Homo sapiens: one gene and its partners. The protein of the gene in region 1 purifies or fractionates together with the protein of each later gene. This does not show direct contact. Each region holds a gene or a part of one and is shown on either strand. Other genes may lie near its edges.

The links.
Region 2: the proteins of TBC1D22A (region 1) and EXOG purify together in Homo sapiens (affinity purification with mass spectrometry; 3 studies listed by BioGRID and IntAct, with this or other methods). This does not show direct contact.
Region 3: the proteins of TBC1D22A (region 1) and METTL13 purify together in Homo sapiens (affinity purification with mass spectrometry; 2 studies listed by BioGRID and IntAct, with this or other methods). This does not show direct contact.
Region 4: the proteins of TBC1D22A (region 1) and SUPT6H purify together in Homo sapiens (affinity purification with mass spectrometry; 3 studies listed by BioGRID and IntAct, with this or other methods). This does not show direct contact.
Region 5: the proteins of TBC1D22A (region 1) and KIRREL1 purify together in Homo sapiens (affinity purification with mass spectrometry; 3 studies listed by BioGRID and IntAct, with this or other methods). This does not show direct contact.
Region 6: the proteins of TBC1D22A (region 1) and CREB3L2 purify together in Homo sapiens (co-immunoprecipitation; one large-scale study listed by IntAct). This does not show direct contact.
Region 7: the proteins of TBC1D22A (region 1) and FLYWCH2 purify together in Homo sapiens (affinity purification with mass spectrometry; 3 studies listed by BioGRID and IntAct, with this or other methods). This does not show direct contact.

The regions. Positions count from the first base shown.
Region 1 is NC_000022.11:46,769,150-46,772,649, reverse strand, and holds part of TBC1D22A (TBC1 domain family member 22A), read right to left. Parts: intron 1-3,500. UniProt on the Homo sapiens protein: May act as a GTPase-activating protein for Rab family protein(s).
Region 2 is NC_000003.12:38,506,340-38,509,839, forward strand, and holds part of EXOG (nuclease EXOG, mitochondrial isoform 1 precursor), read left to right. Parts: intron 1-514; coding exon 515-629; intron 630-3,500. UniProt on the Homo sapiens protein: Endo/exonuclease with nicking activity towards supercoiled DNA, a preference for single-stranded DNA and 5'-3' exonuclease activity.
Region 3 is NC_000001.11:171,788,160-171,791,659, reverse strand, and holds part of METTL13 (eEF1A lysine and N-terminal methyltransferase), read right to left. Parts: intron 1,209-3,500; coding exon 1,044-1,208; intron 1-1,043. UniProt on the Homo sapiens protein: Dual methyltransferase that catalyzes methylation of elongation factor 1-alpha (EEF1A1 and EEF1A2) at two different positions, and is therefore involved in the regulation of mRNA translation.
Region 4 is NC_000017.11:28,668,705-28,672,204, reverse strand, and holds part of SUPT6H (transcription elongation factor SPT6), read right to left. Parts: exon of another isoform or gene 974-3,500; intron 1-973.
Region 5 is NC_000001.11:158,084,145-158,087,644, forward strand, and holds part of KIRREL1 (kin of IRRE-like protein 1 isoform 1 precursor), read left to right. Parts: intron 1-277; coding exon 278-435; intron 436-2,451; coding exon 2,452-2,602; intron 2,603-3,500. UniProt on the Homo sapiens protein: Required for proper function of the glomerular filtration barrier. It is involved in the maintenance of a stable podocyte architecture with interdigitating foot processes connected by specialized cell-cell junctions, known as the slit diaphragm.
Region 6 is NC_000007.14:137,992,087-137,995,586, forward strand, and holds part of CREB3L2 (cyclic AMP-responsive element-binding protein 3-like protein 2), read right to left. Parts: intron 1-3,500. UniProt on the Homo sapiens protein: Transcription factor involved in unfolded protein response (UPR).
Region 7 is NC_000016.10:2,893,215-2,896,539, reverse strand, and holds part of FLYWCH2 (FLYWCH family member 2), read right to left. Parts: intron 1,321-3,325; 5' UTR 1,220-1,320; intron 189-1,219; 5' UTR 91-188; coding exon 1-90.

The DNA of each region.
Region 1 (3,500 bases):
AAAAAGTGCGGTGCATGTGTGTTTGTGTATATATGTATATATGTATATGTGTGTATACATATATATGTATATGTGTGTATACATATATATGTATATGTGTGTATACATATATATGTATATGTGTGTATACATATATATGTATATGTGTGTATACATATATATGTATATGTGTGTATACTATATATGTATATGTGTGTATACATATATATGTATATGTGTGTATACATATATATGTATATGTGTGTATACATATATATGTATATGTGTGTATACATATATATGTATATGTGTGTATACATATATATGTATATGTGTGTATACATATATATGTATATGTGTGTATACATATATATGTATATGTGTGTATACATATATATGTATATGTGTGTATACATATATATGTATATGTGTGTATACATATATATGTATATGTGTGTATACATATATATGTATATGTGTGTATACATATATATGTATATGTGTGTATACATATATATGTATATGTGTGTATACATATATATGTATATGTGTGTATACATATATATGTATATGTGTGTATACATATATATGTATATGTGTGTATACATATATATGTATATGTATATATACGATGGAATACTACTTAGCCATAAAAAGGAATGAATTACTGGCATTCGCAGAGACCTCGATGAGATTGGAGACAACAATTCTGGGTAAAGTAACTCAGGAATGGAAAACCAAACATCACCTGTTCTCACTCATAAGTGGGAGCTAACGGCTAGGCATGGTGGTTCACGCCTGTAATCTCAGCACTCTGGGAGGCCGAGGCGGGTGGATCACTTGAGGTCAGGAGTTCAAGACCAGCCTGGCCAACATGGTGAAACCCCATCTCTACTAAAAATACAAAAATTAGGCGGGCATGGTGGCATGTGCCTATAATCCCAGCCACTCGGGAGGCTGAGACAGGAGAATCACCTGAACCCGGGAGGCAGAGGTTGCAATGAGCTGAGATCGCGCCACTCCACTCCAGCCTGGGCAACAGAGCAAGACTCCATCTCAAAAAAAAAAAAAATAGTAAGTAGGACCTAAGCCATGAGGATGCAAAGTCATAAGAATGACACAATAGACTTCAGGGACTCAGAGGAAAAGGATGGGAAGCGGGTGAGGGATAAAAGACTGGGTTCAGTGTATACTGCTCGGGTGCACTGTTCAGTATACACTGTTCAGTGTATACTGCTCAGGTGCACCCAAATCTCACAAATCACCACTAAAGAACTTACTCATGTAACCAAACACCACCTGTTCCCCAGTAATCTATAGAAATAAAAAATTAAAAAGAAAAACAGAAAGAAAAACAGACAAGTGGTCTCCGAAGACTTGTTCTCCTCAATTCCATGAGGAATCCCATGGTTCCTCAAAAACACTTGGAGGCGATGGGGTACTTCCTCCTGCTCTTGTTACTTAAGAAACAAATAAATAAATAATCCAAAATTGTCAGGGATCAATCATTTTTGTCTTCATTTAAAATTAACCCAGAGTCCAGATTTACTCTATCAGACGAATATGTAAGAGAAAGGAAATATGATTCACATTCAATTTATTTTTCAAAGTGTTTCTGGACAAAGTAAGACATTTAATAACATGGAAAGTAACCGCTGAAAGGAACAAGAAAAGGAACTGCACCTACAGCAAAATCTCACCCACCAGCTCTTCCGCGGCCCCCGTCACAGGAAGGTCATCTCCACTCACAAACAAGAAGAGAAACCCAACTGGCGGGGAACACACAATCACTGCCGGAACAAGACTCCGGGGCTTCCCTCTGCATGGAAAACAGGACTGAGGGTTCTTACCCAATAAACAATCTCTTCAAAACATAAGCAAAAGGCAATACAGATTTATAAAAAACACAAGAAAGCAAGGCGGCCAGAAGCAGCAGCCAACATTCTGAGGAAAGAGGCAGGGCTCTATTTGGTTCCTAGGCCTGAGCAGGACATAGGACATAGGAAGAACCCTCCGAGCTGACTTCAGTCCCCTGGGTTTAAACACACTTTGTGGAGGTTACCCAGTGACCACCCCCAAGGCCGCTGACCAAGGTACTCCTGCCCACATCCAAGTGCAGGACTCTGCTGAGGGAGGTGCTGGGCCACCTGCCATTCCCTGTCAGACATCCCTCGGCACAGTCCCCAACTCTTCACAGCTGCTGTAACAAATTACCACAGCTTAAAACATGCATTCACTATCTCGAAGTTCTGAAGGTCAGAAATCCGGCATGGGTCTCATCACACTGAAGTCCAGGCGTCAGCCAGCTGTGCCCCTTCCGGGAGGCTCGAAGGGAGAACCCCTTTCCTGCTCACTCCGGTTGGCGGCAGAATTCAGCTCCTGGCGGATGCAGGAGCAAGGCCTTGCTCTCCTGTTAGCCATCTGCAGAAGGCCTTTCGCAGCTTCTAGAAGCCGCGCCACATTCCTGGTGGCTGCCTCCTCCATCTGCAAAGCCAGCCGCTGTGGGTGGAGTCCATCCCACACCATGTCTCTGACCACGTCCAAAAGCTCGTGAGGTTACACTGGGCCCACCAGGTAACAGGACAATTCCCCCATTTCAGGTCAGCTGATTAGCGACCTTAATTCCCCTCTGCCATGTAACAGAACATATTCACAGGGGTCAGGGATGAGGATGAGGACACCTTTAGGGGGCCAGTATTCTGCCTACCACACTCCCATCCCCTCAGGCCAGCACCCTGGAGATCACCTCGACCCCCAGCACCCCGCCCATCAGTGAATCCTGAGTGTGCCATGTGTACCCTGAACATGCCCGATCCTCTCCAACCCCACAGCATCTGGCCTCGGCCTCCTCAGAAGCCCACCAGTTTCCTCTCTCGCCCTCTCTTCAAGGATGACAAACAGTGTCACAGTATCACACCCCTCCCTGTTTAAAACCCTTCAACACTCTCTCATGGCTCTTAGGACCACAGCTCAGATCTTCACCATGGCCTTGGAAGCAGCTCCAGTGCCTGCTCACCACCCTCCATGCCCCTCCTCCCCAGTCAAGCGCTCCCCACTCCTATACACCCTCCCCTGACCTCAGCAGCCAGATCGGTTCCTGCTGTACAGCCAGGTCTCGGCGGAAGCGGGACCTGTGTAAGGAGGACATGAGCATTCCACCCAGTGAGGGCCTTGCTACTCTGCCAGGGTCCCGGGACTGCCACCTGCCCAGCACTGCAGTCTGTGCGCATGTGTTCACAGGGCAGGCGTCCAGCCGTGAAGAGCCACATGGCTTGCTCAGCACGCACCACAGCACCTGGCACAGGAGAGGAGCTCGTAAACGTTTTCCAAATGAATTCATTATCCCCAACAGTGCCTCTCCTTCGGCTGAGGACGGACTGTGGCCTATTCAGCCGACCGTCTGATTTGCTCACAGACATCTCGTGGCTCTGGCAATGTAAGCTGAAGGCTGTCAGAGCCACATCACTAAGAACCCTCTTGTGCTCCAGCTTTATCCCAGCACTCACATCCTTGCCATGCTC
Region 2 (3,500 bases), on another chromosome or scaffold:
TAACCCTATTAAAAATGTTAGTTTTACATATGATGACGAGTCTTTAAAATAAATTCATTCAGTAATTCTGGTCCTTGAAATTTATCCTAAGGAATTGATACAACGTTGCATTATATAAGAAATGTTAACATAAGCCCAATTGTCCTGCAAGAGGAATGGTTAAATAAAGTATATCATCTTGTTGGAATGATACATAATTCTTGAAAGCTGGTTGGGAACTATGGCATAAAAAAAGTTTTAAGTTCATGAAATTTGAATTCCAGAATGTACTCTGAGCGCACATAAAGAAAAATGTAGATAGTTTTGTTAGTGTATGTGATTTTTAAGTTTTTTCTGTGCAGTAAGCAAACTGGGAAAATAATTGTTTATATGCTTATAATGTTTTGTGCCATGTTCTTGTTTAATTTCTCAAATGCAGTTTTTCTTGGTATCTTTCATAGGAATTGATATGATTTGCTGCTGTCTTACATGTATATATGTGAGAATATCATACATTTTTTTATTTGTTTTTCAGAATAGAAATGTACTGTCGAGAGCTGACAGAAAGGTTTGAAGATGTTTGGGTGGTATCTGGGCCTTTGACCTTACCTCAGACTAGAGGCGATGGAAAGAAAATAGTTAGTTACCAGGTAAGGATGTTTAATAGTCAGGTTTATGTTATCTGTATGAGATTATAATCTCACTTTCCATTCTGCTTTTTATTTTTATTTTTATCATTCAAAAAAAATTTTGCATTCTACTTTTTAATTTCACTTATTCAACAATATTTATTGAACACCTATTAGGAATGATAGGCATAGGGAATATAGTGATGGATAAAAGCAACTATTGACTTCAAGGAACTCACGGTTTAGAGTGGAAAACAGATGTTAACAATTAATTACATTAAAGTGTGACATGCTGTAATAGAGGTAAACACACACAGTGTGGTCTTGTGAAAGGACTGATGGGCTCTACTCATATGAGTCAGGAACGCTTAAAAGAGGAAGTGATATTGAGCTATACCTTGACAGATAAGAGTCAGGAGTGGACCCTGAGGATTCCAGAGGATGGAGCAGGATGAGCACAGGACATTTGTGGTCAACATCAGGGTTTTGAGATTTATATATCATTCATAAAAATTGGAGCTTATGGTACAAAACAGTGTGGGTGGCTCAAGGGGTATGAAGAGTTCCATAACAACAGGTGGACGGGTGAGATAATATGCGACTTTCTATTCTATGATGAAGACTTGGGTTTTAATTTTTAGGCACTAAGAAGTCATAGATTTGTTTTAAGCGTGGGAGAAATATGATATTTGGGTTTTATAAAGAGTATTTTGGCAGCAGCGTGTAAAGAGATAGGTGGGAAAAGGGAGCATTTGAAGAAGAGATTAGAGGCAAGGAGATGAGTTAGGACATACAAGCAGTTGGAGTGAGGAATAATAGAGGAACACAGGAAAGAGTAACCATGAATAAATAACTTGTTTGAGTGAGGAAGAGGGAGAAGTTCCAGGATAACAACTAGATTGCAGACCAGGCTCAGTGGCTCATGCCTGTAATCCCAGCACTTTGGGAGGCCGAGGCAGGCGATCACGAGGTCAGGAGTTCGAGACCAGCCTGGCCAATATGGTGAAACCCCGTCTCTGCTAAAAATACAAAAATTATCTGGGTGTGGTGGCGTGTGCCTGTAGTCCCAGCTACTTGGGAGTCTGAGGCAGAAGAATCGCTTGAACCCAGGAGGCGGAGGTTGCACTGAGCCGAGATCGCACCACTGCACTCCAGCCTGGGCGACAGAGCAAGACTCCACCTCGAAAAAAATAAAAATAAAAATAAAATAAAAACAACCAGATTACAGTGTTACAGTGAGTTGAATAAATGGGAAGAAAAGCTTTTCTTCTAGAAGCTTCTTTTTTTTAATATGCAAGATATGTGAGCACTTTTATAGACTGAAAGAGAGATTAAAGATAGGAGAGTGTAATTAGTGGTGTGAGAGCTTCAGACATCTAATGTTGCTGGGAAATTCTTAGCTAGCCTTTCATATTGGCAATTTACAAAGTGGTATACCTGAAGAGCAGGTGTTCTTAGAAAAAGTTTAACATTTAATCTTATCATGCAGAAATATCCTGAGGATTCTTCCAAGAGGGTGGCTGAAATGTTATACTATACTGTGAGGCTTACAGAGGGCAGGGAACAGGTGGAGTGAAGCAGAAGAGGTGGTAGAGTGAGTAAAAAGAAGCACTGAAGGACTTGCTAATAAGGCCAAAGAGGAGGGGAGGGAACACCTAGCTCAGCTCTGGAAATAAAGTAGATATTTAATAAATGCTGGTTAGGTAAATGATTACTTAAGTCTGTGATAAAATTTAATAACCTGAGGAACAGATTGAGGAACCACCCCCCCCCCAAAAAAAAACCAAAACTTTTAGAGTATATTCTGTCCATTTGACTTGCTTATTATCAGCCTGTCTAGATCAGATGTGCAGTAATGTCCAAGCATCCAAGGATTTGTATAGGTCCATATGAATAGCCCACTTTCTCTTTTTCCACACAAAATTATGACCCAACTACTTCTTTTTGTTAAGTGGAAATGATAGAGTAGTTGTTTTCAAGGATTTGTACATCCTTGGAAAATTCCAGTAGATATGGGAGTGAAGGAAGTCAAAGGAATTAGTATTTTAAAATTAATTCATTTAATATCTCTCCTCCCATATTAATTTCTCTCCTCTGATTAACTTGCTAATTTAATTTTAGTATATTTTATAGTCTTAGGAGAAAAAAAGGCTTAAAGCCCCCTGTATTATTTTTCAAATATTAATTATTCTTGGTCTTTGTTAAATCCTGTTTATTTTATGTCAGAAAAGAGGCTCTTCTAGCTTTGACTTGTATATCTTAAATGGTTAAATTACAGTTTTATTTGTGCTTTGTTTTTATAAAATTGAAAAATTTATATCACTAGCCTACTGTGTAGTAGAACAAAAATTTGTACAATGTTTAAAACGAAAAATTAACCAATAATTACAAGCATTTCACTACATAGATTTTTGTGTGGCTATTTCTGTAAAATATGTGTTGCCCAAATGCCGTAGTGGAAAATGTATTGTTTTTCTTAAGTTGGATATAATTTTTAAAAATAGAACTGATAAAAATATATCTTCTAGTTGTTTCTGCTGAAAAGGCCCAGAAGAATTGGTATGTCATTAGCAATGAACACATCTTGAGACCCAGATATTTGTTTCTAAAAAGCATCTCCTGAAAAGACTCAGCGCTTAGAGAAATGACTGATTTAAGGGGTGGTACAGGGAGAGTACAAAATGGAACATCATATATCAGAAAGCCAAGGAAGTGCTCAGACAAATGGTGGGGATATGTCAGAAGGACATGTGAATCAGCTTGAAGGAGCTCCCACTTACTGTATCTGGTGCTATTGAATATCAAAATAAAATGGATTATAAACCTATTGAATTAAATAAGAATACATACTCAATAAATATGTAAATACATAGGGTGTAAAGAAAAGCTTCT
Region 3 (3,500 bases), on another chromosome or scaffold:
AAATCCTGTCTATAGAAAGTAGAAAAATTAACTGGGCATGGTGACACACACCTGTGGTACCAGCTACACGGTAAGCTGACGTGGGAGCCTAAGGAGGTCAAGGCTGCAGTAAGCTGCGATCATACCACTGCACTCCAGCCTGGGCAAGAGTAAATCCCTGTCTCAAAAAAAAAGACTTCTTCACTATAAGAATTATTAGACCCTCTCTAGGAAAGGGAAGAAGAGTGGCCAAACAATCTTGCTCATGATTACAAGGCAGCAGAGGTGCAATGTCCCTTGCCCTTGACTCAAAAGGCCACACCGTCTTCTCAGACACCCTCACCAAGTAAGGGTAAGCCATTCAAGTTCCACAAATCACAGGAAAACAAAGGCCCAACTCCTACTCCTAAGCACAGAGCACAGCCACCACAGGGGGATCAAAGGAAGACAACAAAAGTCACCCGAAGGAGACAGACCCTGAGAATTAAATCTAAGAACTGAGATTCTAGTGACATACATCAACACTAAGATAGGACAAAAGTATAGGGTATTCCAAGAAGGCACATTCAGGGACTTCAGGTGAAAACGGTTACAATCACAGACAAAACATGAACAATTTCACTAATGCAGTCAGATCCAAACCTGCTATTAGCGATAAGGCTATGACTGCATTAACTATAATATGAATCTTTTCAGAAAGTAGAAATTCAAGATAGAATTGCATCTTTTGTTCAAATAATGCATTACAGAAAAGCTGAACAATTAAAATCTGTGTATTTTTACATATCTCATTGAATACATGATATACCTTAATTTTAAAAAGAAATGAACAGAAAAAATACCACTTAGACTCTAACATATTTCAATACAATTTCAATATAACAGGTTGAGTTTGAGGCAACAGTTAATTAGAATGCTCATTAACTTATAACATGGTTGAGATGAAGAAAGATACATTGTCAGCTTGTAATTGCTGTTCTTCAACTACAATGCAAGTGACACCAATTGTTTAGGTCTGTAATCTTTATGCTCCCTTCTGTGGAAGGCAGTGGCATCTCTCTCACCTAGGAGTAGCTCTGGGTTTCTCAGCAGGGCAAGGCCAGCGATCATGGCTTTGTGGTGTTCACAACACAGGTAACTCTTATCAATGGACTGCCCCGGGGCTGCAGGGAGGTCCTCCGCATCAGCAGGCCGCTGCTTCTTCCTGTCCTTTTTCCGCTTCTTCTGGGCTAAACAAGAGATATGAAGCCCTATGCTTAGTACACTAGTCCTCAGGAAGCAAGGGTTACTGGCAGCAGTGTGCTCCAGATGGCTTGAACACTCAAAAGACCCAATCGTTAAAATTTTGCAAACTGGTTGACATCATGTTGATAGCTTGAAACTGGCCGTAGTGAAATCATCTGGATGTTTGTCCCCTACAAATCTCACGTTGAAATGTGATCCCCAATGTCGGAGCCACCATGCTGGTCACGGGGGCAGATCCCTCATGAATGGCTGGGTGCCTTCCCCATGGTATTGAGTGAGTTCTCACTCTAGAGCTGTTGTTGAAAAAAGCCTGGCATCTCTTTTGCTCCCTCTCTTGCTATGTGATGTACCTGGTCTCCCTTCACCTTCTGTGATAATTGTAAGCTTCCTGAAGCCTCACCAAATGCAGAAGTTGGTACCATGCTTCTTGTACAGTCTGCAGAACCATAAGCCAAAATAAAAGTCTTTTCTTTACAAATTATCCAGTCTCAGGTATTCCTTTATAAGCAACGTAAAACAAACAAATACAGTGGTGGTATTTATACTAGAGAACTGATAAACACTATAAATTAGGATGTGCCCCCCCTACCCCGCCCCACAAAGACATAGTCATTAAACATTTAACATATACAATGGATACAAGGAAGCTGGAAAAGGAAATGGCAAATGCACACTCAAAAACCTGGGAAAACTCAACTGAGGAGCCCTGGTACCTCCCGTCTAAGAAATGTAAGGCCACTAACAGGAGAAAAGATTACTCATAAAGTCTTTTAAAGAAAGGTAAAGTTACTAATCACCTGCTATGTGCCAATTACTATACCGTAACTTTTATTTTTTTAGCTCTTCTAACAACCTTATCATTCCAATTCTTGGCACATGAACACACTAAGCCACTGAAGTGTTAAGTAAATAGGGAATCAGCAGATGGTAGAGATAGGAGTTGATCCTCGGACTGCCTGTCTCCATCACCTATCATCTTTCTGCTATGCCACACAGGTAGCACTACCAACCTTTGCTGAAGAAGGAAATCACAAGTATTCAAAAAAGGAAATAAATCCTAAAAAGCCACTCCACTTTCCCTCTCACCACTCCCTTCCCTGCTCCAGGGTATCATACTAAACGGATGGCTGTGTCTTCATAGGGATCAGCTGCATTCCCCAGCAGTAAAAAGTGCTGATGAGTGGAGTCGGGGTGCTTTTCAGATATATTAAATCACTTTTTAATATGCTCTCCTTCTTGCTCACCAATACTCCCATGAGGGAGAACGTTCTTTCCATGAGAACAAAGTGCTACCAAGAAATCAAGGAACATGACAATGGTGAAAAAACCTGAAACCCAAACTGAAAGGGGCAAAATGTTCTTTTAAGCAATTTTACTGAGATTTTAGTGAGATGAAACTGGACCAACCTGCAGCCACAGTGACCAAACAATAGGGCAGAAACCCAACAATCTTGGGTGCTCTTGGCCAGGGAAAACCCCTAAAGAAAAATACCATTTCGCTGGGTAACTTGATTCTAGGCTCAGAGCCAGTCTATGACCTCAAGCATCTGAATTCTCTGTCTCCACCCTCCTCCCAGATGGCCTTGCTATGAGGGCAGGCCAGTCAGGCAAAGGGAACAACTGGGAATCAGGAGAGCCATTTCAGCTTCCATCCTTGAATCTCTGCGCCTCAGACAGGGAAGATGCACTGGAGACGGAGAGGTGAGGGGCATTCACTTTTCGCGGTCTATATTTGACTTTTGAAGTGATTTCAATGAACAAGTATCACTTTTAAAATACAAACTAACACAGGTAAAACAAACTATTGATTCCCCATCGGGGGAGTTTCTGAGTGACAGCTGGGAGACCACTTAAAGGGATCCTAGAAGAGATGGTTTAGATCTACACTGTCCAATACTAGCCACTAGCCCCCTATGGCTGTTGAAATATAAATGTAAATTAATTAGAATTAAAGAAAATTAAAATTCAGTTCCTCAGTTACACTAGCCACATTCCAAACGCTCAGCACTACATATGGCTAGTCGCGACCACATTAGAAACTCAGGAACTAAACATCTCCTTCATCACAGGCAGTTTTACTGAACAGTGGTATACTAGAAGGCCTCTAAGTCACCCGCCAATCCAAAACCCTCTGAAACAGGTGAGTCACACTATGGAGGGCAGGGCTCACCTGCAACTTCCATAGTTCTGGCTCACCTCACAGAGGCCTATTGAAACAATACACAGATGTATATGGAGCACCTGCAAAACAGATGCCTTTAAACCGAAGACATTAA
Region 4 (3,500 bases), on another chromosome or scaffold:
TTTATAAAAGGTGCTTTCATATGTTTACATACACTATTCATACTTATTAGCAAAGTCAAAAGCAAAATCTCTTTTCAATAGATTAAACACACAAATACTTCATGAACTTGAGCCAATTTGTGTGAGTACTGGTTGGGAGCATTTGGGTCCAAAAAGGGCCTAGTTTTATCATTTACTCCCCTTGCAGGCAAAAAATCTTGAAAGGCTTCCATGTCCTACAAAATAAATGCAACATGGTTAAATGGAAAGACTGCTGGGCTCAAGAGTAGAAATCAAATCCTGGTTTCATACCCTACGGGCTAAACATAAACTTAAGCAAATTATTGGACATGCCTGAATATCACTTTCTTAACCTGGAAAATGGTAATAGCGCTACCTACCTTACAGGATAGTTGAGAATATTACATGACATAGGGGAAAGAACCTATTGTTTCAAGATGGGTTAACCTGAGTTTGAATTTGAATCCTGAGCCTAATTTTCCTTAGCATTCTGTAATTCTGTACCAACCAACCCCAACTTTATCTTCTACTTCCCTGCTTTCAGACTCATCCAAAGCCTGGAAACGACAGTAGGGATCTTCAAGAACCGTAACATGGAGCTTGATGGGCCTTGAGTAGGACTTAAAAAACAGCACACATCATCACAACAAGATTCCATTGTGGAACCCTAAAGCTGGCTGCTGACACACTCAGCATCACTCCTCACCCCATCCAGTAAAATGGTCTATGGGATATATCCCATGTACCTTTCTCTCACTTAGACTACAAGCTTCTGGAAGATAAAGAACATATCCAATAGAGAGACTAATAAAAATCATGAAAACATAAATGGCAATACAAGAGGCATTACAAGGCACTCTGTGATTCTGCACCAGAAAAGCTATATCCCTTCAGGTGTGCTGCAACACATTAGCAACAAATTAGCTGCTAACAAATTAGCAACTGTTAAGTGTCTGTTAAATAAACTACTTACGTTTTCATATTGCTGCCATCTTCCCAGTTAAAGATGGCAGTGGGAGGGGAGAGAAGAGAAGGGTGGCTAATGGCTACCTGAAGGTGCCTTAAGTTCTGTGGCTCTAATTCTCCTCAAAATTGCCCTTACGGAGCTCAATCAATACTATAACCAATGAACTTGAGATTAACTAAACTCAAGAAAACAAAACTGAAGGTATAGGAGGGAGGGGGAATGTTCAATTTTCGGTTGAGGTTTCAGATGCCATTCTTTCCACAAACCTAACTGAATGCCTACAATGTACATATACTCTGCTAAGAGCTGGGGATTTGAAGAGAATTGTTCATTTTCTTTCTTTTTTTTTTTTGAGATGGAGTTTCGCTCTTGTTGCCCAGGCTGGAGTGCAATGGCGTGATCTCGGCTCACCGCAACCTCCACCTCCTGGGTTCAAGCGATTCTCCTGCCTCAGCCTCCCGAGTAGCTGGGATTACAGGCATGCACCACCATGCTGGCTAATTTTGCATTTTTAGTAGAGAGGGGGTTTCTCCATGTTGGTCAGGCTGGTCTTGAACTCCTGACCTCAGGTGATCTGCCCGCCTCGGCCTCCCAAAGTGCTGGGATTTACAGGCGTGAGCCACCGCGCCTGGCCGGATTGTTCATTTTCAAGGAGTTGAATGTCTCCTAGAGATAGAAATATGAAAATAAGGACCATAAAATCGTTTTATATATTACAATAGACACACAGAACAGGCACAGGAAGAGAACTGGACAATAAACTCACAACACACACACAAAACCCAATCAAAATAATATGGGTCTCTCTTGGGTATTTTAAGCAATTTTTTAAAAAGTACCCTGAGGAATAATGCTTATTACACACCTACCAAGTGCCAGACACTAACAAATACCCTACTATTTTATGTCCCTATCAAGGAGAACAAGTATTCTATTAATCCCTACACTGTCCTATGAGTTACAGCACACTTCTCTCTCAACAGAGGAGGAAACAGACTCAGAGAGATGTAGTCATTTGTTCAAGGTGACAAAACTATCATCTGTAAGTGCTGAGGTCTGTCTGACTCTTCATGGTTGACAGTACCACATCTATCAATAGTTTTCAGGGCGTGGTCCAGGGGCCAGTCCCTCTGTTCTCTCAGGAGCATAGAGTGGAGTTTTCCAGAGGTTATAGGACATGTGGTTATCACAACAGACTGAATGCAAAAACATATGAGAACACAGCTGTATTCTGTTAGAGCAGACATTAAAACATTGTACTAAAAAACAAAGAATGTCATTCTTACTTAATTTACTTATTTTGAGACAGAGTCTTACTCTCTCACCCAGGATGAAGTGCAATGGCACGATCCTGGCTCGCTGCAACCTCCGCCTCCTGGGTTCAAGCGATTCTCTTGCCTCAGCCTCCCGAGTAGGTGGGACTACAGGCGCTCGCCACCACGTCTAGCTAATTTTTGTTTTTTTTAGTAGAGATGGGGTTTGGCCATATTGGCCAGGCTGGTCTCGAACTCCTGACCTCAAGTGATCCACCTGCCTTGGCCTCCCAAAGTGCTGGGACTACAGGCGTGAGCCACCACGCCCGGCTATTCATTTATTTTTTAAGACAAAGTTTCACCATGTTAGCCAGGCTGGTTTCGAACTCCTGAGCTCAAGTGATCCACCTGCCTCGACCTTCCAAAGTTCTGGGATTACAGGAGTGAGCCACCACACCCAGTCCATTCTTACTAAAATGTTTTGTTTTAAAAACTATTATTATTCGGCCGAGTGCTGTGGCTCATGCCTGTAACCCCAGGCCGAGGCAGGCCGATCACCTGAGGTCAGCAGTTTGAGACCAGCCTGGCCAACATGGTGAAACTCTGCCTCCACTAAAAATGAAAAATTAGCTGGGTATGGTGGCAGGCGCCTGTAGTCCCAGCTATTCAGGAGGCTGAAGCAGGAGAATTGCTTGAACCTGGAAGGCAGAGGTTGCAGTGAGCCAAGATGGTGCTACTGCACCGACAGTGAGACTCCGTCTCAAAACAAACAAACAAACAAAAAAACCCAAAAAACTACTGTTATTCATAAAAAGTATTATTGTTTACTACTTTAAAATAAATCAATAAATATTTTTAAATGTCTCACTGAGTTTTAATTTCGAATCTGGTAAATATCAAAGGATATAACTCACATAAACAAAATGTCTTTGAAGTCCTAAATAAGTTTTAAGAGTATAAAGGGGTCCTGAGTCCAAAAAGTTGAGGAGTGACTGTAAAGACCCTAAAGAGATGCGGTATAGTAAGCCTAGGGGTTAGGGTGATGCTCCCCCATGACCCCAAGATCTCTATCCTTAAGGTCATTTAGCTTGAGCACTGCCAAAAGTGAAAGTCTTAAACTTCTGCCAATTAAATCTAGAGCTCTAATTTTAATTTTGACATTGCTCCCCCTCAGCCCTGAACTGAGCCATTAAAAACAGATTTGAGTACGGCAGCCCCCACACATAGCTTGTTCTAATTAGGCTATCAGACCCACAAGTTCAATCTTTTAAGGCCTCAAC
Region 5 (3,500 bases), on another chromosome or scaffold:
AACAAACAATAAACCAGTAGGGGCATGGAGTACCAGAAAATATTATAGGCCAGGAAAGAAAAGCAGACAAGGACTGGGAAAGATGTGTGAGCTGAGGACCTAGAGGAAGCCACCACAAGAGCAATGAAGACAGTGGTTGTAGATTAGGGGGTAGGGTGGTACCGCCTACCTAGAGGCGCACATGCAGGTGGAAGGATGCTTCCAGAGGCAGGAGTTTTGGTCTTCAGGGAAGTGTTAGCCACACCCTGCACTGACTTTGCTCTGCTTTCTCCCACAGTCCCCCCAGAGGACACCAGGATTGACGGAGGCCCTGTGATTCTACTGCAGGCAGGCACCCCCCACAACCTCACATGCCGGGCCTTCAATGCGAAGCCTGCTGCCACCATCATCTGGTTCCGGGACGGGACGCAGCAGGAGGGCGCTGTGGCCAGCACGGTGAGCTCCAGCCAGCTCCCCCAGCTCCTCCTGGGCCTAGCCCAGCTCACCTCTCCTTTCCCACAGGGGTTTCACCACAGACTCAGGAGCACACAGACATGAGAGGGGTCTTAGAGGTCATCTGGTTCAACCCTCTCATTCTACAGTTGGGAAAATTGAAACCCAGAGAAGAGAAATGAATTCCTAGGTTTACTGTGTCATTCAGTAGCTGAACAGAGACTAATAGTAATAATAAGTTGCCATGGATTAAGCACCTACTGTGTGCCAGACACCGTGCATGCTAAACACTTTATGGACAGTCTCTCTTAATCTTCATAGGAGTCCCATAAAGGAGGCATTATTTCCAACTCACAAAGGAGGAAACTTGCGCTCAGAGAGGTTGAGTGACTTGTCCAAGGTCACACAGCTGGCACAGAGCGGGGGTTTGTACCTGGGTCTGACTGTGCTTTCTCTCCACTGATCACTTCTACCTCTTTCCTTCAGCGTCTGGTTGTCAGATTATTCCAGTCATCACAACAAAGAGGCTGGGGAAGCAGAGATCCTTGTATACATTTTATAGATGAGGAAGCCATGAAAGATATCAAGTGACTTGCCCAGGATTACATAGCAAAGCGGACAGTACAGCTGGAATTCAAAGCCAGATTTCCTGGTTGGGGTTACCCTGCCAGTTGTGGGTAAACATATGTGTATTCAGCCCTTTGCTGGTGCTGCAGGAGCACTTCTCAGTGTGGAGACAGAGATGTTCCCATGCTCCTCAGCAAGCAATCCCAGGAATACCTGGCTTCTGGCTTCAGTTCTGCCCTTAACACACTGTGTGACCTTGGATAATTCGCTTCACTTTTTTCTGGCCTTAGTTTCTCATTTGACAAATGATAATTCAGCCTCAGTGGTACTTAACCTTTTCACAACCAAAAACTGTGATTTTTCTTCATCAGGGCTACATGTTTTTAGATATTTTGGCAACCAAACAAGTTGGTTTGTTAATATCCATTTGTCATCTACCCCCATTTTTCATATTCATTAAAGACAATGGAGCTTCAAAGCAGCACAAGGGAGCCAGTGTTATTGCACTGGCCCTCAACTGGGCCTGTCCAGCAAAGCTGCATGCATGGTGGTCAAACAACGGGGTCTTACTTTGATTAATAATATGGCTTCCCTCAGGCAGTTTGCAATATAGAAAACAGATCAAGGGTTCCTGTGACCATATTTAGGGACCCCTGGCTGTCACTGAGCAAGTGTAAGACTTCGAGCCTGTGAGTCCCTTCCCTGCCCTCAAGGAGTTTACAGTTTAGCAGAAGAAACCCAACCCTGAAACACGCACACATGGTGCCTACAAGCAAGGTTGGATGTGTCTAGAGCTGTGAGCAGGACACACTGACTATAAGGGCATAAATTCAGTCTGGGAGAGAGTTCTGAGGGCTGGGCTGGCTGAAGAAGGCTTTCCAGAAGAGAAGGGATTTGCGCTGGACTCACAAAGAGTGAACTCTAATATAAACTGTGGCCTTAATAATAATATATTAGTTTCGGTCCATCAGTTGTAACAGACTTATCACTCTAATGCAAGGTGTTAAGGTGTTAGTAATGGGGGAAAGTGTAAGGTCGGGGAGGAGGGTATATGGAAACTCCCTGTACTTTCTGCTCAATTTTTCTGTAAACTTAAAACTGCTCCAAAAGATAGTCTGTGATGTGGGCATGATGGCACACTCCTGTAGTCGCTGCTACTCAGAAGGCTCAGGCAGGAGGATTGCTTGAGTCCAAGCTTTGGAGGCCAGCCTGGGCAACATAGCAAGACCCTAAAAATATATAACTTTTAATTAAAAGATAATTAGTAGTCTATTGATTAAACACACACACACACACACACACACACAAGGGAAGAGGTTGTGGGAGTGAAGGGGATTGAGCTTTAAGTTAAAGTACCCCTCCAGCCCAAGCCCATCTCTGAGTGAGGTCAACTTAAGAGCAGAGGAGGGGGCTTTTAGCTTAACCATATCTCCCACCCTTGTCATGTTCCAGGAATTGCTGAAGGATGGGAAGAGGGAGACCACCGTGAGCCAACTGCTTATTAACCCCACGGACCTGGACATAGGGCGTGTCTTCACTTGCCGAAGCATGAACGAAGCCATCCCTAGTGGCAAGGAGACTTCCATCGAGCTGGATGTGCACCGTGAGTGGGCTGGGGGGAGCAGTCTGGAGCAGGGGGGTGGAAGAAGGGGTGTGTTTGAGAAGCACACTCTTAGTTTGAGAAACACAAACTAAGAGTCCCCCTATGGTCCCCAGGACAAACGCTTGCCTTCTTCACATCTTTCATTCCCTGGATTGAACCATGGGGACTAAGGGCTGGTAGAGCATTGGCTGTGGAGTCAGGCAGTCCCCAGGTCTAAACCAGCCTGTTATTAGTCAATGGTTTACACTCTCTGGGCCTCGGTTTCCAGTTCTGTATACTGTATATTGCAAAAGATAAAATACTGGCCTACAGTCCCTTATTCAAACTAAAAGTGGTTCGATGGTGCAGCCTGAACCAAGGCTCTTCATAGTCTTTTATTTAATTTAGTCTTAAGTTTCACTGCAGATGTATTCATATGTGTGACTATGGGATGTGGCCCAGATGCTGCTGGGGATCTTACACAGTAAACGCTCTATGCACAACCATTGCCTTTCTAAATGTGAAAAATTCTAAATTCTGAAATGCATCTAGTCCTAAGGGTTTCAAATAAGGGATTGTGGACCTGGACCTGCTTCCTGGGGTTGTGAGCATTAAATGAGATATAGCAGAAGAGCATCTAGCATGGAGTATTCTTACCTGGTAGGTGTGTAATAAATTGTCTCTCCCCAGGGAACCATGGGGGTGTGGGCAGCAACTGGGGATGCCCACACCCCATCCTTTTTAGTGAGCCAAGCAAGCTCACACTGACGCCTAGTGGCCACAGTGGGTCATTAGTCCATTGAGTTATTTGTCCCTTTGGTGCCTTCATTGGTGGTCACCCTAGCAGGCCCCCTAGAGGCTCCATGTGCAAAAGGTGAGGAAGACAGTGTGTTAACTGGAGCCGATACACTGCAACCTC
Region 6 (3,500 bases), on another chromosome or scaffold:
ACCTACACCAGAATACAGCAACTCAAAAGCAGGCAATTCAACATGAGGTAACTGTAGCTGAGCCCCAGAGCAGCTGTACACACAAGAGGAAAATATGGTACGTGATCTAAGAAGTTACGTCTCACTTTTGAATTGACCTTCCACACAGTCGAAAAGATTAGACCTACCCCCACAGGATGCCACAGAGGGTTTCCCAAGCCAAAGTACAAGCAAAAGTCTAGGCAAAACACAGCTTGCCTCTAATGAGTGACACGGACTGTAGAAGCAGCTGAATCCCAGGAATGACCCATGAGCTCCTCTTGGGTTTACACTGCAAGAGAGCTGAGTCACTCAACATGCCCTGAGATAAATGGGTGCAGCGATAAGAAGGATCAACATCCCAGCTCTTCTTTGAAACACATCAAGAAACACATGAAAATTCAAGGGTTACCCAGCCAGAGCTGTTCTGCTGCTCAGGTGGACCTAGCAGGCTTGAGTCAAACTCCAAAGATCTGCTTTTCGTCAAAAGACAAATAACAAGTATAAAAAACTGAGAACCAGATGCACTGAAGTTTATAGCAGAGCCCAGGGGAACATACAGAGAGAAGAGAAGGCCAAGTACCAAAACACTCACATTTAACAGCTGGTATGGAAGCCAGAAAAGGAGGAAGAACTAAGCTTGCCAGAGTGTCATGGAAGCCAAAGCAAAAACGAGTTATGAGACAATCCTGTGGTCAGTATTGCCAAATAGTCCCATGAGGCCCTGCAGGTAAGGACAGAGAAAAGACTATTGGATTTAGCAGCCAGGGAGAGGTTGAGCAGTAGGACCCAGCGGGCAGAGGATACAGGGTAGAGACTAAGGAAATGGAGGCCATGGCTGGTGACCACGCACTTGAGAAAACCTGGCAGTAAACAAGAGAAAAGAAATGAGTAAGAGGGAGCATCTGGCAAACATGTGTTCAAGGCAGAGGCCTGTGTTTACAGCACAATGTAGGAGCTGGAGAGGAGAGGAAATAAAGATGCATGAGAGAGAATAATGACAGGCTCTCTCCACTTTCTGAATGATGTCAGACTCCTAAGGTTGGGACACCTTGTTCTCAAAGAGAAGACATTTGACTTAGGGGATAGGTTGGAAAAGTACTTCTATTATGGATCAGGCAGTGACATGCAAAGAAACTGAAATCCAAATAGGTGAAGTAATGTACCCAAGGTCACCAGAGAGCCTGTGTCCCTCAACATCAAAATGGCCTGCCTTGAAAGCCCACCCTTTCCACCATGCCATCAACTCCACTCCCACTGGAAACAGGGACTGTTTCAATCACCCCACGCCCACCTTGTTCTCTAATCAAAACAAGAAAAGATATCAACACTGAATTACCCAAGTCACTATTATACTGAATTTTCACATTTGCAAAACCGTTTACAAGAATCCAGAGTTTATTTGTTTGTTTGCTCATTTATTTATTTATTTTGAGACAGGGTCTCACTCTGTTGCCCAGTCCGGAGTATAGAGGCGTGATCACAGCTCACTGTAAACTCAACCTCCTGGGCTCAAGCGATCCTCCTGCCTCAGCCTCTGAAAGCGCTGGGATTACAAGCATGGGCTACCACGTCTTGCCCAGAGTTTTAAAAATATATAAAAACAGGCCAAAGCCACCCAGCTTATCCATTTTCCAGGACTGCCTCACTCTACTTAACTATGCATCAAGCACTTACGATTCTCTGGGCATCCTGCACTTGACTAAGGACCATGAGGGTATAGAAGAGACAGTCATGTCTCCTGTCCTCAAGGAACTTGTGCTGAGCAAATCTCTACTGCTCTATGTCTTACATTCCCCATAGATAAAATGGCCCATCTTCTCCCATGTGCCTCATGAATAACCTATACAATTTGATTCAAGGAAAAATCAAGATCCCTTAGCACTTCATTTAGAAAGGCCAGGGTGCATCCACTGAGCAGGGAAAAAGAGAAATAGGCTCAAGGTTGATCCAGAGACAGTGGGTCTCATTATTTCCTTTCCATCCTGATTCCACAGGGGCAGAAAACAAGGGCAGCACTCCCTCACTCATAAGATCACTCATTTGGACAATTCAGATGCCCTGCAACCATAGGCCTCAATCCTACCAAATGCCCAGCTAAGGCTTAAGGCTATTTACCCCAAGAGAGTCACCAGACAGCGTAGAGCCATGTCAGGCTGAGGCCGGCAGTTTTAGCTGCAGACAGGCACATGTGCCCTCATCAATATTTGAACAGCCATATGCAACTGGAAAAATTGCTTCTTTGAAAAATGGCATTTAGCTTGCCACCTGCTGTCGATCCCAAACAGAACAAATCATTCTTGTCCTGCATGGTAAGCATGATTACAGGCTCAGCTAGCTACCTCCAGCCCTGGTATTCTACTCTGACGCCAAGAGTCCAGATAATACAGTTAATTCTACATCTCCTAGTTAGTGAGTCAAGACATAGCCATAATCTCCTCCTGGCTCCCACCCCTCCCTAGCCTTTCCCTGCACTTTCAAGAGGCTATTTCTACATCTATAGTCTTCTTTCACTGGGCATTGGTAGCACAGCTAAATAATATTCTTAGAACTTTGCTGGGCCGGACGTGATAGCTCATGCCTGTAATCCTAGCACTGTGGGAGGCCGAGGCAGAGGATCCCTTGAGCCCAGGGGTTCAAGACCAGCCTAGGCAACATAAGGAGACCCTGTCTCTATTTAAAAACAAAAAACAAAAGAACTCTGCGAGTGGCACAGTACTTGGGTTTACTGTTTTGCGCCCAGGGCAAATTACTGTGAATTTTAAATTTTCTAGTTGCTAGCCCATGTTCATGAGAAAAGAAACATACCTTTTGACTAAGGAAAGAATTGTTAACTCAGACTATTTTACTAATGATCCCAATGGTCATGCTGGTTGAGTCTCCATCCCCATATGATTAATCTAAGCTGATAATATAAATCCCATTCTCCTTTCCAGCCATTGGCTTAAGAATGGTCATATGACCGAATCCTTACCAATAAAGCTTTAAGAAAAATCAGCTAGTGGGCTAGTAAGAAAAGTTTCTTCCATTCTAAAAAAGGGACACAAGAAAGAGACAACTTCTCTTCTTCCTCTGGATGTTGTCATTTTGAATGTAACCCCTGTAACTCCTATGTCCATCACACATCCAACCTGAGGATGAAAGCTGCACATGGGCAGAACCAAGGTCCATTGAGGAACTGCTGAATCAGCCAACAAGGAGCTCTATTTCTTTTTTTTTCTTTTCTTTCTTTTTTTTTTTTTTTTTTTGAGACAGAATCTCACTCTGTCACCAAGGCTGGAGTGCAGTGGCATGATCTTGGCTCACTGCAACCTCCACCCCCCAGGTTCAAGGGATTCTCCTGCCTCAGCCTCCCGAGTAGCTGGGATTACAGGCGCCCGCCACCACGCCCAGCTAATTTTTGTATTTTTAGTAGAGACAGGGTTTCACCATCTCGGCCAGGCTGCTCTTGAACTCCTGACCTTGTGATCCACCTGCCTTGG
Region 7 (3,325 bases), on another chromosome or scaffold:
CGGGATGACTTCTGTGCCTGGCTTGGGGGATGGCTCCTGGCTGGCCTTCACACTCTCACCCTCCTGCTCGCTGGGCTCGGGCAGGGGCATCCCGGGACCCAGGGCCTGTCCCTCAGGCCACACTCAGCCCCCAGCAGGTGGATTTCTCCTACTCCCAGGCAAGGAACCTGGAGTCCAGCGGTTCCGTCCTAAGGAAGGAAGCAAAATCCCGTCAGTGGTGGAAGCCCTTGGGAGGCTCTAGACGTGGATCTGGGAGGGAGGTGGGGCAGATGGGGCTGCCTCACTGCTCGCTGGGGCCAAGACTGACAGGGGGCCTGATGGAACTAGGCTTCTGCTCTGCCAGTTCCTCTCCTGGCAGCCTTGGGAACGTCAGCCCCATCCAACCCCACTTTCCCCATCTGGAAAAGGTGCACAGTAAACACCCTCCACAAGGGGCCATCAGAATGACTAATGGACTAAGAACTCAGCCACTACCAATGGGCCTCCCACATGCTGAGCACGGACGAAGGGTTTCCACCCTGAGGACTGTTTCCAGTCCCACCTCCCACCCCTGTTATGACAGCAGGCTGTTCTTATGGACCCAGTCACAGTTGAGGACACTGAGACATGCCAGGGTGATCCACACGGCCACAGAGTGGCAGAGATGGAGTGGACACAGAGCCCATGACCACACAGCATCTGGTGTACTTTGTCCATGTTAACAGACATCAGTGTCCCTGGGCACCAAGCATCAGAGCTAAACACTCTGGGGACATTAGCTCAGTTTGTGTTGTCACAGGGAGCATGGGCCAGGCACCTGCCAGCACTTTGCAGACCATAGCACTGCAGCTGGCCCTGGCAGGTGGGACAACCAGATCCAGCCACATCCCCGTCTGAAGGCCCACATGCTCCTCTGCTCGTTGGTTCTTTTTGTTTGTTTGTTTTGGAGACGGAGTCTCGCTCTGTCGCCCAGGCTGGAGTGCAGTGGCACGATCTTGGCTCACTGCAAGCTCCGCCTCCCGGGTTCATGCCATTCTCCTGCCTCAACCTCTCCGAGTAGCTGGGACTACAGGCGCCCGCCACCACGCCCGGCTAATTTTTTGTATTTTTAGTAGAGACGGGGTTTCACCGTGGTCTCGATCTCCTGACCTCGTGATCTGCCCGCCTCAGCCTCCCAAAGTGCTGGGATTACAAGCGTGAGCCACCGCGCCTGGCCACACCCACTGGTTCTCACACCAACCTTGCGTCTGAGCTAGTGCTGGCGCTGCCCTGGCTGGGTGGGGACAGCGATGTGGAGATGTTGTGGATCCCACCGTCACTGAGGACTCCTTGGCTTCTGGCCTGGAGAAGCAGAAAGGATGGGTTGTAACCCTGTAGGGGCAAGTGCCGGGCCACCCCACACTGGTGCTGCAGCACCTCAGGACTGGGGCTCCAGGCCAGTGTGGGGTGGCCTTTCTGTCTTTTGGGGGTCAACTGGGTGGTGGGCAGACCATGGGGTCTTTCCCAGCTTACAGTTTTAGCCTAGACACAAGACTGCAGCTTGGGCAGCCACCTAGCCCCCTGTCCAGGACCCAGGCAGGACAAGGCCCAGAGACACCCACTTTCCCCTCGGGCCGATTCCCCAACCTGGGCTTGAGGTTCTCATGGTTTCCTTGGACCCCTCCCAATGCGTCTGTCCTGAGGGGTCCATGCCCAGCACCCTGGCGCTTTTTCTAAGACCCTATTGTCCATGAGAGGGGCCTAAGGATGCAGGACTGGAGTACAGGGTTGGGGGCCTTGTCCTGAGAGCTTCCCTCTGTAGTCCTCTGACCACTAAACAAAAGCAGATGTGAAGCCCCCACCCCAGGGGCACCTTCTCGAGGGGGTGGGCACTTGAAGAAATGCGCCAGGCGGCGAGTCACATGACTGCAGAGTACCGCAGGGATCGGGGTCGCGTTATCCGTCCGCCTCCGGACAAGCCAACCCCTGTTCCTCCCGTGCGGCCCTTCCGGCTCTGCTCATCTGCCTCACAGGGCGATGTGGGGATGCCGGGGACCTGGGGGCCACTCTGGGGCCGTAAAGAGTTACGGGAGGCCCCAACCACATAGCGCCCTGCTTCACACGCTGATTGGCTACGGCGCACGTCCCTCTGGCGGCCGATCTCCCCACGCCTCCCACACTCCGCAGCATGAGTGGGCAGTCCGGGCAGGAATAAATGCCAGGTTCCCTGACCCCACGTCCGAGTCCACCCCGGGTCCTCTAGCGCCTCCCGCCGTGTCGGTTCTGCCACTGCAGCGCTCCCAGACTCCAAAAAAGATGAAGCCTCTTGCATACCCAGCGTGCAAATTCCTGCAAGATACAGCAGTTGGTCCCCACAAGGCTGGCAGGGACCCAGACCTAGCAGCCTCCTCCAGGCCAGCAGCCATTCTCCGAGACCTCCACACTCACTCTGACCCCCAGACTGCACGCCTCCTTATATTAGGTTAGTGCAAAAGTAATTGCGGTTTTGCCATTGCTTTCAATGACAAAACCGCAATTAATTTTCACCAACCTAATATTTGGCACCTGAGGCACCTCCTTGCCATTCCATAGTCCCAGCCCTGCAGCCAGGCCAACTCTGAGCTGTACAAAAGGGCCCCAAAGGGGCCGGGCGCGGTGGCTCACGCTTGTAATCCCAGCACTTTGGGAGGCCGAGGCGGGCGGATCACAAGGTCAGGAGATCGAGACCATCCTGGCTAACATGTTGAAACCCCGTCTCCACTAAAAAATACAAAAAATTAGCCCGGCGTGGTGGCGGGCGCCCGTAATCCCAGCTACTCGGGAGGCTGAGGCAGGAGAATGGCGTGAACCTGGGAGGCGGAGCTTGCAGTGAGCCGAGATCGTGCCACTGCACTCCAGCCTGGGCGACAGAGCGAGAATCCGTTTCAAAAAAAAAAAAAAAAAAAAAGAAGAAAAGAAAAGGGCCCCAAAGTGACGTCAGCCCCATCTCAAATTCAAACCCCATATTAAACGAACAAGACAGACCTAAACTATTGACTAATTCTCCAAAGCGAAAAGTCAGGAAAATAAAAAAATCTCGTTAAGCTGTAACAAGAAGGGAATCGTGAAATACGTAAATTGGGCTCTTTCATATTGTGAAATATATATTTGGTGTTTGACCCTCTCTCCCAGTACATAATTCCTAAAATTCCTGGAATCTCCAAAATGATGTCTTTTTGTATGCTTAGGCACTGACTGATGGCTGGCAGCCCCTGGGCTGCTTCAATGGGGCTGGTCACCAGAAAGACCAAGGCAGGGTTAGAGGGTTGGGACTTTCAGCCCCTCCTCCAAACTCCAGGAAAGGGAGAGGGCCTGAAGGTTAAGTTGA